Regions from separate parts of the Homo sapiens genome. Here region 1 is linked to region 2. The links come from fine-mapping of genetic effects on gene expression. A gene starts in region 2. The other region holds a variant in brackets. All regions are shown on one strand. Distances are between the middles of the regions.

What was found. PIP is the estimated chance that this variant, and not a neighbour inherited with it, causes the effect. A credible set is the group of variants that fine-mapping cannot tell apart.
Region 1: its variant is the best candidate, but not a certain one, in a credible set for the expression of PCGF3 in monocytes after R848 (Quach 2016, PIP 0.86).

What each region holds. Positions count from the first base shown.
Region 1 is chr4:1,463,226-1,471,548 of GRCh38, forward strand. No RefSeq gene overlaps it. Among named protein-coding and RNA genes, the nearest start is that of NKX1-1, 61 kb to the left of the region's middle. The variant T/TC (reference allele first, on the strand shown) is at 3,427.
Region 2 is chr4:700,802-709,124 of GRCh38, forward strand. It overlaps PCGF3 (polycomb group ring finger 3), which reads left to right and starts at 5,031. Exons shown (of 11, transcript NM_006315.7): 1 at 5,031-5,169. RefSeq lists enhancers at 1-493, 3,051-3,778, 4,819-5,804, 5,805-6,789 and a silencer at 4,754-5,453.

The sequences.
Region 1 (8,323 bases), 760 kb after region 2:
GGAGCCCAGAGCTGTCCTTCCCTCCGGCTCTCAGAGGGGCCAGCTCCTGTAGCCTGCAGCCAAGGCCGCAGAGCCTCCCCCGTGGGCCCCCAGCCTTTTCTCTCCTCCCTGGCCGCCGGCTTCCTGCGTACGCTCCAGCCACGCTGACCTCATCCCTGCCTGCTTCGGGCCTCTGCACATGCCATCTGCAGGGAGCACGAGACCCACAGCTGTGTGGAGCTCACTGCTCCCTTGCTGCGGCCTCAGCTCCAAGTCACTTCCTCAAAGTGGCCCCCATGCCGACCGAGCTGAACCGTTGCCCCCTCCTCGCCAGGCAGCCTGCCCTCTCCCGTCTGTGCCCCTCTCTCCCACCAGATTTCTGCTGCAGGAAGGCAGCGACTCAGTGCCCACAAAGCTTCATGAAATAAGTGCAGGAGTGGGGCTGGGGTCCCAGCTTTGTCTGGGCCTGGGTTCAAACCCAAGGATCTCTGTTGGAGGCAGTTTCTGGAAACCCAAGGTCCAGTCGGCGCGTACCTGATTCACCACTGTCGGTCTCTGGACCCCTGTGCTGTGGGCAGGCCCTGGGGGGTGGCTGGTGGTTGTGGGGTGCACCGTGTCCCCAGGCATCCCCAAGGGAGGGGGCAGCCGCAGCCCCCTGACCCCGTGGCCGACACGGCTCCCCCACCCCTGGTCCTCCTGCTGCCAGGCCTTCTGCCCCCTCCTACCTCGGGTGTCCCCTCCCCAGCCCCTGCCCTCCCTCCCCGGAGGGCCCCTCAGGCCCCTCACTCCTGCCACTGCCTCTGCAGGATCCAGTGTTCCCCCAGCCAACCCGAGAAGACCAGAAGGCCCTGGGAGACCCGAGGGAATGTGGGTGAAGGTTGGGATTTCTGCACTGTGCAGGACGGGGAGACACAGAGGCCCCGGAGTGCGGCTCAGGGGGCGCCGGCAGCCCCACAGCGTCAGCAGGAAAGGAGGCCATGGACACCAGACTGCCTGGCTGCTCCTTCCCTCTTCTGGGCGTCTGATTGCCCAGGGTGGGAGAGGTGGACAGTTAATTAAAAAGCAGCTAATAGCGGCCCTGGGGTCGGCTGCGTGGGTGCTGGGGATATTGGCCCATGGATCACTGTCCTGTGATTGCTGCTCGTGCCCACCCCGAGGGGTGAGGGTCCCTCTGGCTGGTCAGCGCGCCGGCTGCCCCCGCACCCTGAAAGGAATTTAATTCAGGCTACATTTAATTAGGAAAAGAGGGCTTACGGAGGATCATGAAGTTGAAACCTCTTTTAAGAATGGAAATAAACTCTTTCCTGGTCCTCGGCAAGCCAGACAGAGACCCTCAAAGTCAGGTGTCATCGGGCACTGGGTGGCCCGTAGGCTGTGTGGGAGGAAGGCCAGAGCTGGGCTGTTAGACGTCCTTGGTGAACCTGCCGCTGAGTGGAGGTGAGGGGCGGGTGGCCTGGCCGAGCCCAACCCTTCGCCTTCTGATTGGTGGGCAGTGTCCCCGCAGGGCTGGCTGGGGCCACCTCCCTCTGCCAGCATCAGGTCCTTACGTATCAGGATCCGAGGGCCTCTGGTCCTGCTCCCCCCACCCTCTGGGACTCACCCGTTGAGCCCACACCAAGGGTGGCCTGTGTCAGCTCTGCCTCCGGCTGGACCCTGACGGACACAGGAATTGGCTGTCTCCTGTGGGTCACCAGGCTCCGTGCTGGGTCCCAGGGCACAGGCGGTTGACTCCAGCCCCTGCTGCAGGCTGTCTTGAAGAGGATTCTGAGCAGCTGGGCAGGGAGGGAGCTCTGAGCGGGAGTGGAGAGGCTGGGGTGGAAGGGCCTCAGGTGGAGCCTCTCCCAGGCTGCAGCGGCCTCCCCAGGTTGGTGCTGTGGTCCCCACCCCACCACATGGGACAAGCCCTGCAGGCCTGAGGCCAGGCCAGGGCCTAGCAGAAGCCAAAACTCACACACATGGGTGGAAATGTAACAGTTTACATCCAGAAGGGGCCTTTCCCTTAGGGGCTGTAGCCAGCGGGCAGCTCCTGCCTCACCCCTGCCCCTGCCCTCTAAGCCTGCTCTCTGGACTAAAGCCGGACCTGGCAGCCAGACTGTGCGGTGCTGGGGAGGAGACGCCGGGCACTGTGGTGGAGGGGGCCAGGAGAAGGGATGTCAGAGGGCGGGGAGATCTGTGGGGGCAGCCTCAAAAACAGCTGGACAGACAGCCCAGTGCAGGGGGAGCCGCCGAGGCCTTGAGGGAGGAGACTGGGCCAGAGCAAGGGGCAGGAGAGGGAGGATGCGTCCGTGGTGGTGACCAGTGAGAAGGTCCCTGAGTGGCCAGGCAGACTCGGCAGGGGTCCCCCAGAGTGGACAAGTGGGCGGGGCCGAGGTCTGTTTTGGGGACGAGGAGGACAGGGCAAGCCGCGCAACCTTGAGTATGAGGACCACTCTCATCTGTAGAAGGAGCACTGTGGTCCCTGCCTCACAGGGTGCTGAGGAGGAGGAGGCGGGGAGGAGCCCAGTGTGGCCTCAGCCCCTGGGGGCATTTCCAATCCTGCCTCTGGAGCTCGGCCACCCCGAGCTCGGCCCAGCACCCCAGCTCTGCTCCCTGCAGACTCTCCTGCCCTGGCTCCGTGCTGCTTTCTCTGTCTCTCCAGGCCCCATCCTCTAACTGTGGGCACCCGGTGCTGCCCTGACCCCTCCCTGCCCTGTCTGCACTCATCCCTCATCCACACATTGAGGACCCCAAGTGGGTGCCTCCAGCTCCACTGGCTCTTCTGAGCTTGATGACCCCCACGGCTGGCCCCTCACCCTCACGTCAGTGCCCCCCACCACCCCATCTTCACAGACCTCTCAGTCTCTGTCCTTGGCGTGTTTCTGGAATCCACTCATCTGCCCCCACGGCCTCCCAGGGCCTGGTCCCTGCACCTGCCACGGCCTCCTCGGGGCCCTCCCGCCCCACTGCCCACACCCTGTGCCAGCTCCTTCCCAGTTTGCTCCAAGTGCAGCAGGCCGGCCTCCCTGCCTTGGTGTGGGCTCTATGCCGTTCACTTCCTGGGCCCCAGAGCCCAGGACAGGACCCTGCAGGTGGGTGCCCCTCGGTGCCCACCCGCTAAGCAGTGAGCAAGGGCCCTGAAGCTTGTGTGGTCCAGAGAGTCCACGCGTGGCCACTGAGTGCCACCCTGGGACTAGGGACAGGATGTGGGGTGGCCGCTGGGGAGGGGAGTCCAGTGCTCCACAGGGACTTACTTCACCTTCCATGAAGTTAAAGGTGGAGTGGGGAAGGCAGAGGTCCCTGGCCGGGGTGGGGAGAGTGGGCAAAGGATACCGGCCCGGGTGGGGAGAACCCTTTCTGATCCTCCTCACAGACCCCAGGCCCCACCTGGGGGCTTCTGTCCATTGGCTTCGGAGCTGCAGCCTGAGACCTTGGCCTCACGGCCCACTCTGGAGTCCCCCCACTGCAGCC[T/TC]CCCCCCTGCCCCACCTCCGCCACACACACAATCACCTCTGGGACTGTGGCTGTTTCCAAAATTCCTGGGACCCAGGGAGGCCACAGCACTGGAGGACAGCCACCAGCAGGTGGGAAGCGGGCTTGGCCGGGGCGCTGCCCGTCCCGCCCCATTGGTTCGTGTGCAAGCAGCTCTTGAGTCCACCCCTCCAGGGGCCTGCAAGTTCATTTGCTTGTCTTACACCTGGCAGCCCTGAGCACTGAGGCTTGATGAGGCTAAGGAGAGCTGGAGGAAGACCCTATTGATTTTAATTACCCAGAAACAGCCCACAGGGACAAAGGACTTTGGCAGTTTATTTAGCCAGGCTGCGCTGCGCTATTGTGGAAGGAGAGGTCAAATCAGCCGCCCTCATTATAACTATAATAATAAGGCCAAAACGCTGCTCGGGGCTGAGGGCCTTTTTTTTTTAAAGCAATAACCTCACTGCCCCACCCCCTCACGCCCCTCTTCAGCAGGCTTGAACAACCAGGAGCAATTACATGCTGTCGATATTAATTCAATTAAATCCAGGTTATTTATTGGGTATTATGGAAAAGGATTCTCTGGCCTTACAGAGATGGGGCATGACTGAGGGAGTGAGCAGGATACAGAAGCCTCAAGCAGAATTGACTGTGGGCATGGGCCAGAAAATCAGCACATCTCCAGGAGGAAGGTAGAGAGCGTAGGGCACTGTGGGGGCTGCTTGCGTGGCATTTCTTCTGGGACTGGTACAGAAGAAGATCAGAAGGTGTTTGAGTGTTTGAACCCTTCTAAAAAGTGGCCTTGTAGAAGACCGAGTGGCCTTCAGCAAGTCATTCAGTGCTTCTCTTTACCTTTGACTTTGCAGCTGAAAATTGGTTTTGGATGATGATGATGATGATGATGATGATGATGACAGTCATGGTGGTGATAAAGGAGATAACGAAAGGGTTGATGGCAGTGACAATAATGGTGATGATGATGGATGATTGTGAAGATAATGAAGAAGATCATCATTGGGTTGACAATAGTGACAATGGTGATGGTGATAATGGTGTTGATTGTGATGATGGTGGTGATGATGGTGATTATGGTGATGGTGATGATGATGGTGGTAGTGATGATGGTGGTGATGGTGATGATGATAGTGATGATGATGGTGGTGATGGTGGTGATGATAGTGATGATGGTGGTGATGGTGATGGTGGTGGTGGTGATGATAGTGATGATGGTGGTGATGGTGGTGATGATGGTGATGATGGTGGTGATGGTGGTGATTATGGTGATGATGATGGTGGTAGTGATGATGGTGAAGATGATGGTGATGGTAATGATGGTGGTGATGGTGATGATGATGGTGGTGATGGTGGTGATTATGATGATGGTGATGGTGGTGACCATGGTGATGACGATGATGGTAGGGATGATGGTGATAGTAATGGTGATGCTGCTGCTGATGGTGATGGTGATGGTGATGATGATGGTGAAGATGATGGTGATGGTGATGATGATGGTGACTGTGATGATGATGATGGTGATGGTGATGATGATGGTGACTGTGATGATGATGATGGTGATGGTGATAATGATGGTGGTGGTGATCGTGGTGACCATGGTGATGACAATGGTGGTGATGATTGTGATGATGGTAGGGATAATGATGATGATAGTGATGGTGATGGTGATGGTGATGCTACTGATGATGGTGATGATGATGATGATGGTGACGTTGATGATAATGGCGATGTTGATGATAATGGTGATGATTATGTTAATGCTGACAGTGATGATGCGATGCTGCTGCTGATGGTGGTGATGGTGGTGATAATGTTGGTGGGGATGGTGTGAATGATGATAATAATGATGGTGATAGTGATGATGGGGATGATGATAATGGTGATGATTATGGTGGTGATGATGGGTGAATATGAGCAATGATGATGTGAGAGATAATGGGAAAGACATCTGCCTTGCTGACATCAAACTGTTGCCATTAGATTAAATGGGATAATGGGTTTTTGAAACCTTGGTAGAGCACACAAGTACAAGAGGCTGTGAATGAAATAGGAGACACCAGGTGGAAGGCCACGGATGAGCATCAGTGCCTGTGGCAGGAGGGCCATAAAGGACCCCACATTTGGCGCCCAACCTTAAAGGGAGAGCAGGCCACCGGTACTGGTGACACCTTCCACTCTAGGCTGAGAATGCAGGGTCCAGAGGAGGCCCCCAGTGGCTGTCAATATCAAGGGACAGAGAAAAGTGCCTGCTGAGTGCCCACTAAGGGCTGGGCACTGTGCAAAGAGAGCTTTACCCATTTAGTCCTCACAATGACCCTTGGGGCTAGGGACATTTCAGGGACCTGGTTCTCCTGGATAATTCCTGTCCACACTGGCTGACCAGGCATCGTTTTTACACACCTGCTTCCACTCTTTCCTTTGGATGATAGAGCGCAGGCCACCTCAGCAGTGGGAGTTTCGCCCCTATTTTACAGATGCAAGCACTGAGGCTCCCAGAGGTGGAGGCTGTGGAGCTAGGTCTGCGGATGGCTCTAAGCGCTGCACCCTGCTCCTGCTGAGTTTCGGGCTGACTGGCAAGGGGGGAAGGTTCAGGGTCTTGGGACCCTGAAGGGCATTGCAGAGCCCTGCTGCCTGGCTTTGAGGAGGCCCCCAGGGTAGGGAGTGGAGATCACAGGGGGCTGGCCCCTGTTTGATGACATGGCTGGGACTGACATAAGATTCTCAGTGGATTCAAGTGACCTCTGAACATCAGGGTATAGCTGTGGGTACCCCAAAGGGCCATGAGAAGGGTAGGAGGCTTGGAGGGGAGGTGGTGGGAGGTGGGCAGAAGCTGTGGGCCTAGGGACCAACCAGAGATTTTGCCAACACAGTGGGCACACCAATGTCCTGTGGCTGCCATAACAAAGTGCCCCAACCCGAGGGGCTAACAATGCCAGAAGTGCGTCCTCTCACAGGCTGGAGCCCAGAAGCCTGAAACCCAGGTGCTGGCAGAGCTACACTCTCTGCAGTCTCCAGGGGAGGACCCTTCCTGCGTCTCCCCAGATTCCTGGGCTGCTGGCCTTCCTGGATGCCATCCTCTTGGCTTGTAGCAGCACACTCCACCTGCCTCTGTCTTCACATGGCCATCTCCCTGCGTGGGTGTCTCCGTGTCTCTGTTTTCTCTTCTTACAAGGACACCAGTCATTGGATTAGGGCCCGCCCTACCCATGTGACTCCATTTTACCTTGAGTACATCTGCAAAGCCTGTTTCTGAATGAGTCACACTCATGGGTACTGATGTACAGGAATTTCAGAGGGATGCTGTTCCACCCAGTGCACTACAGCACACAGGCCTGCAGCCAGTGGGCCGGGGGCCGCGGCACCTACTGCCAGAGCTGCTGGGTGGCCTGGTGGCCAGTCGCTGGTGACCCTTCCCAAGGCCACCACCCTCGTGTCCATGCCTGACCGCGCCCTGCATGCTGACAGTGTCCTGGCCCTGACTCACAGCCAGAGCCCAGTATCATCAAGACGCTGGTGGCGGCCACGACCCCAGGGCTGTGCGTGTTGCCTCTGGCTCCTGAGGCGGGCTCCGCGGCCTCATGCTGGACACCGTGTCTAACCGGCCAAGATTGACCTGTTTGGGGCTCCTCACTGCAGCTGAGCGATTTGATCTGAGACCCAGACAGCAGTCAGGGCAGTAATTGGATGTTATGAGATCGGAGGGCCACTCTCCGAGGAGGGGGCAGCTGAGCGGCCGTGGGCAGCTGGAGGAGGGGGCTGCGGCTGGCAGTGGGGGTGGGGCAGCCCCTGTCCGCTGGAGATAAGCCCCTCATCTTCAGCCCCTAATCTCCTGCTGGGGTCATGGACAGAGCCCGAGGCAAGATGGAATGAATATGGCCACTGTCCAGCCACTGCCTGGCACTGCTGCCCCGAGGGTGCTGTACAATTAGTTTTAAATATCAATTTCACGGCTGCTCAGGGGAGAGAACAAGCAGGCAGGCAGGCTTCACCCAAAGCAAACCAGGTGTTTCCTACAGGCTTCAACTTTGTAAGAAAAGGCAAAAGCCATCAAGGACATGTCCAGCTGAGCTGACGCCAATGCAACTTCTCTGGGTCCTTCAAAAATCGGCCCCAAGTCCCCCACACTGCTCCTCCCCTGGACCTGCTCCATCCTGACCCCAATGCTGTAACCAGCCCTCCTAGCACCCTTGTCCCTGCGAATCCCTCTCAGGCTCTGTCTCCTCCTCCAGGAACCCCTCGCCGAGAGCTCCTTCTCAGACCCCAGGCCCTGGCGTGGGCCCAGCTCTGCCCAGGCTCCAGGCCAGTGCTTCTCCTTCCCCCGGAGACCCGGCCAGCCCAGCCCTACTGCCCTCACAGGCAGCTCTAGCTGGCCAGGTGGGGATGTGTCTAGGAAGCAGGAGGGGCCGAGGCCTGGGAGGGTTTGTGGGAGTGGGTCAGGGCATCTGCTGGGACCAATGCTGACCATGGGTAGAGGACCCGAGGGCACCGCCCAACAGGGCAGGAGAGTGAGGCACAGGGGTTAAGATGGCGCTGGAAGTCAGGGGAGTGAGGCCTGAGAAGGCCCCAAGGAGGAAGGGGCTTTAACTCTGACTTTAAAACAGGGGCCAATCTGGCTAGGAGGAGGGGTGGTGAAGGGGCCCTCTTGTGGGGTCCCTCATGAGCAGGGGACAGGGAAATCCTGGGGAGGTTCCCCAGGAGGGCAGCTCCCAGTGTCCCCACCCAGCTGTCTGACTCCACATGGCCAGCGTCACCCATCACACCCCGGCCAGACCTGGGGCTGGCTGAGCTGTCAGGGCGCAGAGGGTGGGTGTAGTCCCAAGTGGACGTCACTGCTGAGCTTGGCAGGGCGCATGTGGTTCCCAGAGGGACTCACTATTGGGCC
Region 2 (8,323 bases):
CGCCAGCTTCTTTCCAGAGTCCTTGCCAGCTCCGGGCAGCTCCCACATGCCTGCCCCATCCTGGAGCTCTGGCTGTGGGCAGTCCCTCCTCTCCGTCCCTGCCCTGTGGACTCTGGTGTGTGGGCCTCCCTGACTCCCAGCTTTGCCTCCTCCGCCCAGCTCCTCTCCCTGAGTTGCAGCCAGGAGGCTTCCTTTAGGCCTCGCCCCATTTGCTCCTCTCTCAGGCACCATGTCCTGTGCTCCCTGATGCCCAGTGTCTGAAGATCGTTGGATGTATTTTGTCCACTGTTTCAGCTGCTTCGGGAAAGAGGGTAAACTCACGCCCTGCACACACATGCCGATGGCACAGAGATTGAGGCTGTGAGCTTTGCCTCCCCCTGGTGTGAAAATACGTCATCTTCTGGCTTTGCAGTCAGTGCTGTGCACCTCAGTTTTGATCTGCCTTGTAGTTTTATGAGTCTCATGAGGGAATTCGGGGAGATACAAAATTCTTGCTACTGCCACCATCTTCCCAGAATCCACAGGGATTTATTTATTTATTTATTTTATTTTGAGACAGGGTCTTCCTCTGTCATCTGGGCTGGAGTACAGCGGTGCAATCTCGGCTCACTGCAACCTCCACCTGCTGGGCTCAAGCAATCCTCCCACCTCAACCTCCCAAGGAGCTGAGGCCACAGATGCACACCACCATGCACCACCATGCCCAGATACTTGTTGTTGTTTATTTTTAGTATAAACAGGGTTTCACCATGTTGCTCAGGCTGGTCTTGAACTCCTGGGTTCAAATGATCCACCAGTCTCGGCCTTTCAAAGTGCTGGGGTTATAGGCATGAGCCACTGCACCCCACCTATTTTTATTTTTTTATTTTTTATTTTTTTTAAGAGACAGGGGCCAGGCATGGTGGCTCATGCCTGTAATCCCAGCACTTTGGGAGGCCGAGACAGGTGAATCACTTGAGGTCAGGAGTTCGAGACCAACCTGGCCAACATGCCAAGACTCCATCTCTACTAAAAATTCAAAAATTAGCCAGGTGTGGTGGCTTATGCCTGTAATCCCAGCTACTTGAGAGGCTGAGGCACGAGAATTGCTTGAACGTGGGAGGTGGAGGCTGCAGTGAGCCGAGATCGTGCCACTGCACTCCAGCCTGGGTGACAGTGTGAGACTCCATATCAAAGAAAAGAAAAGAAAAGAAAAGAAAAGAAAAGAAAAGAAAAGAAAAGAAAAGAAAAGAAAAGAAAAGAGATGGGGTCTCACTATGTTATTCCAGGCTGGTCTCAAACTCCTGCGCCCAAGTAATCCTCCCGCCTCAGCCTCCCAAAGTGCTGGGACTACAGGTGTGAGCCACACTGGCCTCCACAAAGCATTTTTAGGGCAGGCAAATGGGTAGAATGTTCAATGGTAAATGGGTAGAACTTCAATGGTCCCTGCTCCAGGTAAATGGCAGCAACTGTGAGCCCTTTTCTCATCTCGCAGGACAGCATATCCTGGATACCGGAGGTCACTCTGTAAGTAAGAGTGTGTGGTACCATCAGTCTCTTCTTTATCAGTCTTCTTTATCTTTATCTCTTCTTTATTCACTATCCAAGGTGTGGAGGTTCAAGAGTGTATCCGATTAACCGTGTGGATGGCCATGTTTTCAATTTTTCTGTTATACATTATGCTGCAATTAATAGCCTTGGTCATCCATCTTTTTTATTCCTGCCATTTATCTCTGGAATAAAGTCCTATTTGGGGGCCACTGGGCTGAAGGATAAATGCCCGTGTACTTTGCTGGATACTGTCAAACGCTCCTCTGCTCCCACCACTCACGTCTGAGAGCCCTGTTTCCTGACAGCCTTGCCAACAAGGTGAGTGAGTGTCAGGGAGAGCTCTGGGTGGAGTGAGCTTGGGGAAACAGGCAGAGGTGGGAGCAGGGACCTCAGAGGACGTCCTTATCATCACGCGCTGGGTGGAGCGCTCCCACTTGGGTGTGACGGGACCCGCTGGTTGGCTGCTCTGTTGAGGATTGACTGGGGGTGGGGGGCCCAAGGCTGTGGCACCAGTTCCAGCAGGACAGGGCGGGTTTGGGCCAGAGCAGCCTTGGAAAGCCATGGTTGGATGATGGGAAGTTTCCAAGACAGAGCTGGCAGGACTTTCTGATGAAAACAGAAGAGAGCAATTGGGAACAAGACCACATGTCTGTACCCCAGCAACAGAAAGGGTGGTGACAAAGGCAGTTGGATTTACCCCACAAAGTCCTGGAGCATTTGGTTGAGACATGGGGGTAGGCGCAGATGCCTGATGTGCTTAAGAGAGAACTCGGGGAGGGAAATTGGAGAAAGAGTTCCTGAAGAGTGACGCTGTGAAGACAGCAGAGAAGCACAGGGTCCAGCGAGCTCTTTCTGTTCTGCTCCATCCTCAAGGATGGGCAGACCCTCTGCCAGTTTGTGAGTGACCAGAATGATCTGCCAGAGAGGCACCCAATGGCCCTAGGAGGCCCTAGTGACTGGGTGGGCAGGGAGGGCGGACCGGCACCCTGGGGAAGGTTGGGGCACCCTCTGGGGGGGACAGGGGCCTCCCCTCTACTCCAGTCTGCTTGTGCCATGATTCCTGCCTCCCTTCTTTACAGCTCTGCTAAGGAATACGTGCCTGTATGTAATATGTGCACACCCCGAACTCACACCAGGACAGCACACACTGCCAACACCCTAGGCTTCTTTGGCCCCGATGCCTCCACCCTCGGGCCTTGGCTGAGTGAGGTCCCAGGAGGGTGCAGGTGGGAGACCTGGCTGGCTGCCGATGGGCCATGGATGGCCAGTTTGGGCATGAGAGGAAGAGGGTGCAGAGGACTCTGGGGTCTTGCCTCAGGACTGGCGGTGGGGGGTGGGGGGTCCTGGGGTACACAGCAGACTCAGGATGGCCTGGGGAAGCCATCCGGCCATGTGGCATTTAAGCTTCCTAATGACATTCAGCAGAAACAGAGCTGGACACAAGAGCCCAGGGCTCAGAGTCAAGGTCCGGGCACCGCTGGCACCCACCCAGGAGAGTAGTGGGAAGCCTAGGGGTAGGGTCTGCACCTCCTTGAGGAGGGGCCTGGGGCCTGGAGTGAGTTCTGAACTGCAGCTTACCACTCTGCCTCTTCCTGAGGCCACCACACTCAGCCCAGGACTGTTCCTGGCCTGCTGGCCACCCCCTGCCCCTTGCACCCCAGCACCAATACCTTGCCCCTGCCCTCCTTCTGGGATGATCCTCCAGTCCTCCCCTCCACATCTGGGGCCTGCCTCCACCAACTGAAAACTGCAGTCAGGGCTCTTGTGGAGGGCCAGCACCCCAGTACCCCAATCCCAGGCAGCCCTCTCCAGTGGGCCCCTCCCCTGCACTGGGCCACCCCATGGCTCCACGGAGCCCTCCCTGCCTCCCCTCCCCCGGGGGCAGCAGTGGCCACATTTAGTCCCTCCCCTTCACAGCAGCATGCCTGGGAATGCTGTACACATTCACATGTCTGCTGTCTGTCCTCCTCCCACCCGGATAACGTGTCCACCCAGTGCTGGAGATCTCAGCAGGCCCCCAGCCCTTCTCAGGCCCCTCTCAGCAGCGGACTCAAGCCGCTTCCCCACGTGCTGCACCATACCTGGGCCCGGGGCCCCCTGCCTGGTGGCTGCTCCCGGGGTCCAACTCTAGACTTCACGGGGACAGTCGCAGGGTCACTCCCTCAGCCACCACCTCTCCAGACGGGACGAGCTAATGACTCCCGACTCCTGCTCCATGCCTGCACCGCACAGCCTCGCAGCGAGTGCCCCTGGGCCTACGGGGCCTCCCCTCTCGCCACCAAGCCTCCACACTGCGCGGTGCCCCGCCGCCCGGAACCACAGTGGTCTCGCTTCCCACCCAAGACCCAACCTGCCCTCCCGTCCTGGGCCGCCAGCCCAGAACCCGCAAACCGGGAGACCCTAGGACCCCGCGTGCCTGCACGTCCGCCTCACCCCCGCACGCGCCCTCGGTCCTCGGATCCCGCCCTCTCAGGACAGTGCCAGTCCCACGAAGGCGCAAATGCCGCCCGTACTGCTCCACCCTGGCGGAGGGCACCCAGGTCGGAGAGTCCGCACGTGGGTGCCCTGTCCGTCCTGATGCTGAACATAACCTAAATACAAGCCTAAACATGACCAGACCCGAACCCCTGACCCTGACCCCACCCCTAATCCTGACCCTAACCCTAAACCCAACCCTAACCCTAAACCTAACCCCTAACTCTGACCCTACCCCTAATCCTGACCCTAACCGTAAAACCAACCCTAACCCTAACCCCTAATGCTGACCCTAACCCTAAATCCAGTCCTAACCCTGACTCTAACCCTAACCCTGACCCTAACCCTAAAACCCAACCCTAACCCTAACCCTGACCCTAACCCTAAACCCAACCCTAACCCTAGACCAGACCCTAACCCCTGACCCTGACCCCACCCCTAATCCTGACCCTAACCATAAACCCAACCCTAACCCTAACCCCTAATGCTGACCCTAGCCCTAAACCCAGTCCTAACCCTGACTCTAACCCCTAACCCTGACCCTAAACCTAAACCCAACCCTAACCCTGACTCTGACCCCTAACCCGACCCCTGACCCTAACACCGACCCTTAACCCTGCCGGGAGGGCGCTCAGTCCCGGCTCCCACAAAGGACAGCAGCACCCGTACTGGACGGCACCCCCGGAGGGACCCGGGCCTGAGGACTCTGCTGCTCCAGCGCCCCAGCTCACGATCGTCCAGGACCCGTCGGGTCCCTCAGCACAGCGCGGCCCTGTCGCTCTCCTGACCACGCCCCTCATGGCCCCGCCCTATGCCTCGCCCCTGGCCCTCGCGCCCCGCGGCTCCCTCCGCCGAGTCCAGGCCCGACGCGCCTGCGCCCTCTGAACACGCCCCTCCCCGCCCCTATCCCCACCCCTTACCGCCTGGCCCCGCCCACGCCCCTTGCCGCGGGGTGGGAGCCCAGACGCACACCGCGCATGCTCCGAGCGCGGCGCCCCCGACGCGGCGCTCGGCTCGGCTCGGGCATTTCCGCCTCTTTGTTTTAAACTCCGGACGGGCTTTTTTCTCCTCCTCTTGGGGGGGACCCAGAGGGAGCGGCGCCCCCTCCCCCCTCCGGCGCGGACCCCGCGTGCGCCTTGCTCGCCCGCAGCCCCGAGACCGCAGGTCAGTGAGTCCGCCCCGCCTGGCCTGGGCCCTCGGCGCCCGCTCCTCAGGCTGCGGCCTCGGCCCGTGTCCGGCCCGGAAGGCTCCGAACCCCGGGCCCGCGCTCCGTCGTCCCCGTCGGCCTGGCCCGGGAAGCCCTTGGCAGGCCCGGGAGGGCCGGCACCCCAGCCCAGTCAGGACTCCGGGAGGTCGAAGACCCCAGCCCAGGCAGGACTCCGGGAGGGCCAAGAGCCCAGCCCAGGCAGGACCCCGGGAGGGCTGGGACTCCAGCCTAGGCAGGACGCAGGGAGGGCAAGACCCCAGCCCAGGCAGGACTCCGGGAGGTCGAAGACCCCAGCCCAGGCAGGACCCAGGGAGGGCTGGGACAGCAGCCCAGGCAGGACGCAGGGAGGGCAAGACCCCAGTCCAGGCAGGACGCAGGGAGGGCAAGACCCCAGCCCAGGCAGGACTCCGGGAGGTCGAAGACCCCAGCCCAGGCAGGACCCAGGGAGGGCAAAGACCCCAGAACAGGGAGGGCCAAGACCCCAGACCAGGCAGGACCCCGGGAGGGCCAAGACCCCAGACCAGGCAGGACCCAGGGAGGGCGAAGACCCCAGCCCAGGCAGGACCGCGGGAGGGCAGGGACCCCAGACCAGGCAGGACCCCGGGAGGGCCAAGACCCCAGACCAGGCAGGACCCAGGGAGGGCGAAGACCCCAGCCCAGGCAGGACCGCGGGAGGGCAGGGACCCCAGACCAGGCAGGACCCTGGGAAGGTCGCGACCCCAGCCCAGGCAGGACCCAGGGAGGGCGAAGACCCCAGACCAGGCAGGACCCAGGTGAGGGCGAAGACCCCAGCCCAGGCAGGACCGCGGGAGGGCAGGGACCCCAGACCAGGCAGGACCCTGGGAAGGTCGCGACCCCAGCCCAGGCAGGACCCAGGGAGGGCGAAGACCCCAGACCAGGCAGGACCCAGGTGAGGGCAAAGACCCCAGCCCAGGCAGGACCGCGGGAGGGTAGGGACCCCAGCCCAGGCAGGACCCTGGGAAGGTCGCGACCCCAGCCCAGGCAGGACCCCGGGAGGGCTGGGTCTTCAGACCAGGCAGGACCTGAAGAGAGTTGGGCTCTGGGATTGCACAGGACCCCCAGAGTGCTAGGACACAATGACACATCATCCAGGAGGGTCTGACCCTGGGACAGGTCACCGAGAAGGGCTGGGACCCCAAGATGGGTCACCAAGGAGGGTCGGACCTGGCCACCTGGCAGGGCCCGGGGGGGCTAGGACCCTGGGAAGAATCACGGAGGAGGGCCAGACGTAGGGACCAGGCAGAATCCAAAGAATGCCAGGACCCCAGAATAGATCCCCCAGGAAGGTCCTGCCTTAAAGTGGGTCACAGACGAGGGCCAGGACCCCATGACCATAATTCAGGAGGACCTGACCCTGGAGCAGTCTTGTGAGTCCTGTGAGCACTGCTGGGACCCTGAGACTGCCCCGTCTCCCCCGGGACCCTGAGACAGCCCTGTTTTCCCCTGGGGGCCGGGACCCTGGGACAGCCTGTTTTCACCCGGGGGCCGGGACCCTGGGACAGCCCTGTTTTCCCCTGGGGGTCGGGACCCTGGGACAGCTCTGTTTTCCCCTGGGGGTCGGGACTCTGGGACAGCTCTGTTTTCCCCTGGGGGTCGGGACCCTGGGACAGCCCTGTTTTCCCCTGGGGGTCGGGACCCTGGGACAGCTCTGTTTTCCCCTGGGGGCCGGGACCCTGAGACAGCTCTGTTTTCACCTGGGGGCCGGGACCCTGAGACAGCTCTGTTTTCACCTGGGGGCCGGGACCCTGGGACAGCTCTGTTTTCCCCTGGGGGCCGGGACCCTGGGACAGCCCTGTTTTCCCCTGGGGGTCGGGACCCTGGGACAGCCCTGTTTTCACCTGGGGGTCGGGACCCTGAGACAGCCCTGTTTTCCCCTGGGGGTCGGGACCCTGGGACAGCCCTGTTTTCCCCTGGGGGCCGGGACCCTGGGACAGCCCTGTTTTCCCCTGGGGGTCGGGACCCTGGGACAGCCCTGTTTTCCCCTGGGGGCCGGGACCCTGGGACAGCCCTGTTTTCACCTGGGGGCCGGGACCCTGGGACAGCCCTGTTTTCACCTGGGGGCCGGGACCCTGAGACAGCCCTGTTTTCTCCCAGGGCCCGGCACCCTGAGACTGGACAGTGAGAAGGGCTCATGACATGGACAGGCTTCTAGATGACCAGGACCTCAAACGGGGTCACTTAGGGTCGGGACACTGGTGTGGACTGGGAAGAAGGCTAGGCTCTCAAAGAGGACCTGATGAGAGCTGGAACTTCCAGACAGGTCCTCAGAGGGCTGGGACTCCTGAACAAGTCACTGAGGAGCATGTAGGCCCCAAGACTGGACTGTAAGGAGTACTGGGACCCTCGGGGGGGAATCCAGCAGTGTCCTGAATCTGCCCAGTCCACTCAGCTGGATGCACCTGCTGTGAAGGCCAGGCATCTGGCATCCTGGTACCCGAGGCCCTTTCCATGAGACCCTGGGCCAGCCCCACAGCCCCTGCACATGAACCGCCTAGGTGATACCTGGGGTAGGTATGAGGCAGGGGCCTCAGGGTTCCAGGAGCTCCCAGCCCACAGGCTCCACACCTCAGGCTGGCACTGCACCCTCCCACTCAGCCCCTCGTCCGGGGCTGCTGTCCTGTCCTTGCCTTGGCTGTGGTCCGTGTCCAGCACCTTCAACCCCTCCTGCCCCTCTCCCCATCTTCAAGGTCATGTGAGTGCCCCACTTCCTCAGTGTAGAGGCGTTTCCAGTGTCCGGGAGACTTGGAGGAGGGGTGGGGTCTGAGCTGGGATGTGGACTCCTGGGCATATTTTGGGGACAGTTGGTCCAAGTCAGGAAAGTTGGAGCAGGCAAGGCTATTTCCCACTCCCTCTCTAGTAAGGGAAGGAATTAAAGGATCCTGGTGGTGATCGGGCTGGGGACGGGGGTTGGTTTATTTCTCTGAAACCTTTGAATCAGCCTTTTATCAAAAACTTGTGGGTGTTTTCCTTTAATTTGGAAGTGGTAATGAAAAAGTGGGGTGCATGAGGTATTCAGAAGCGAGCGGTCTATGCTGTCCTTTGACTAGGGAAGGGTTGTCTAGTGACATCTTGTCAGGGGTGTTTCCAGAG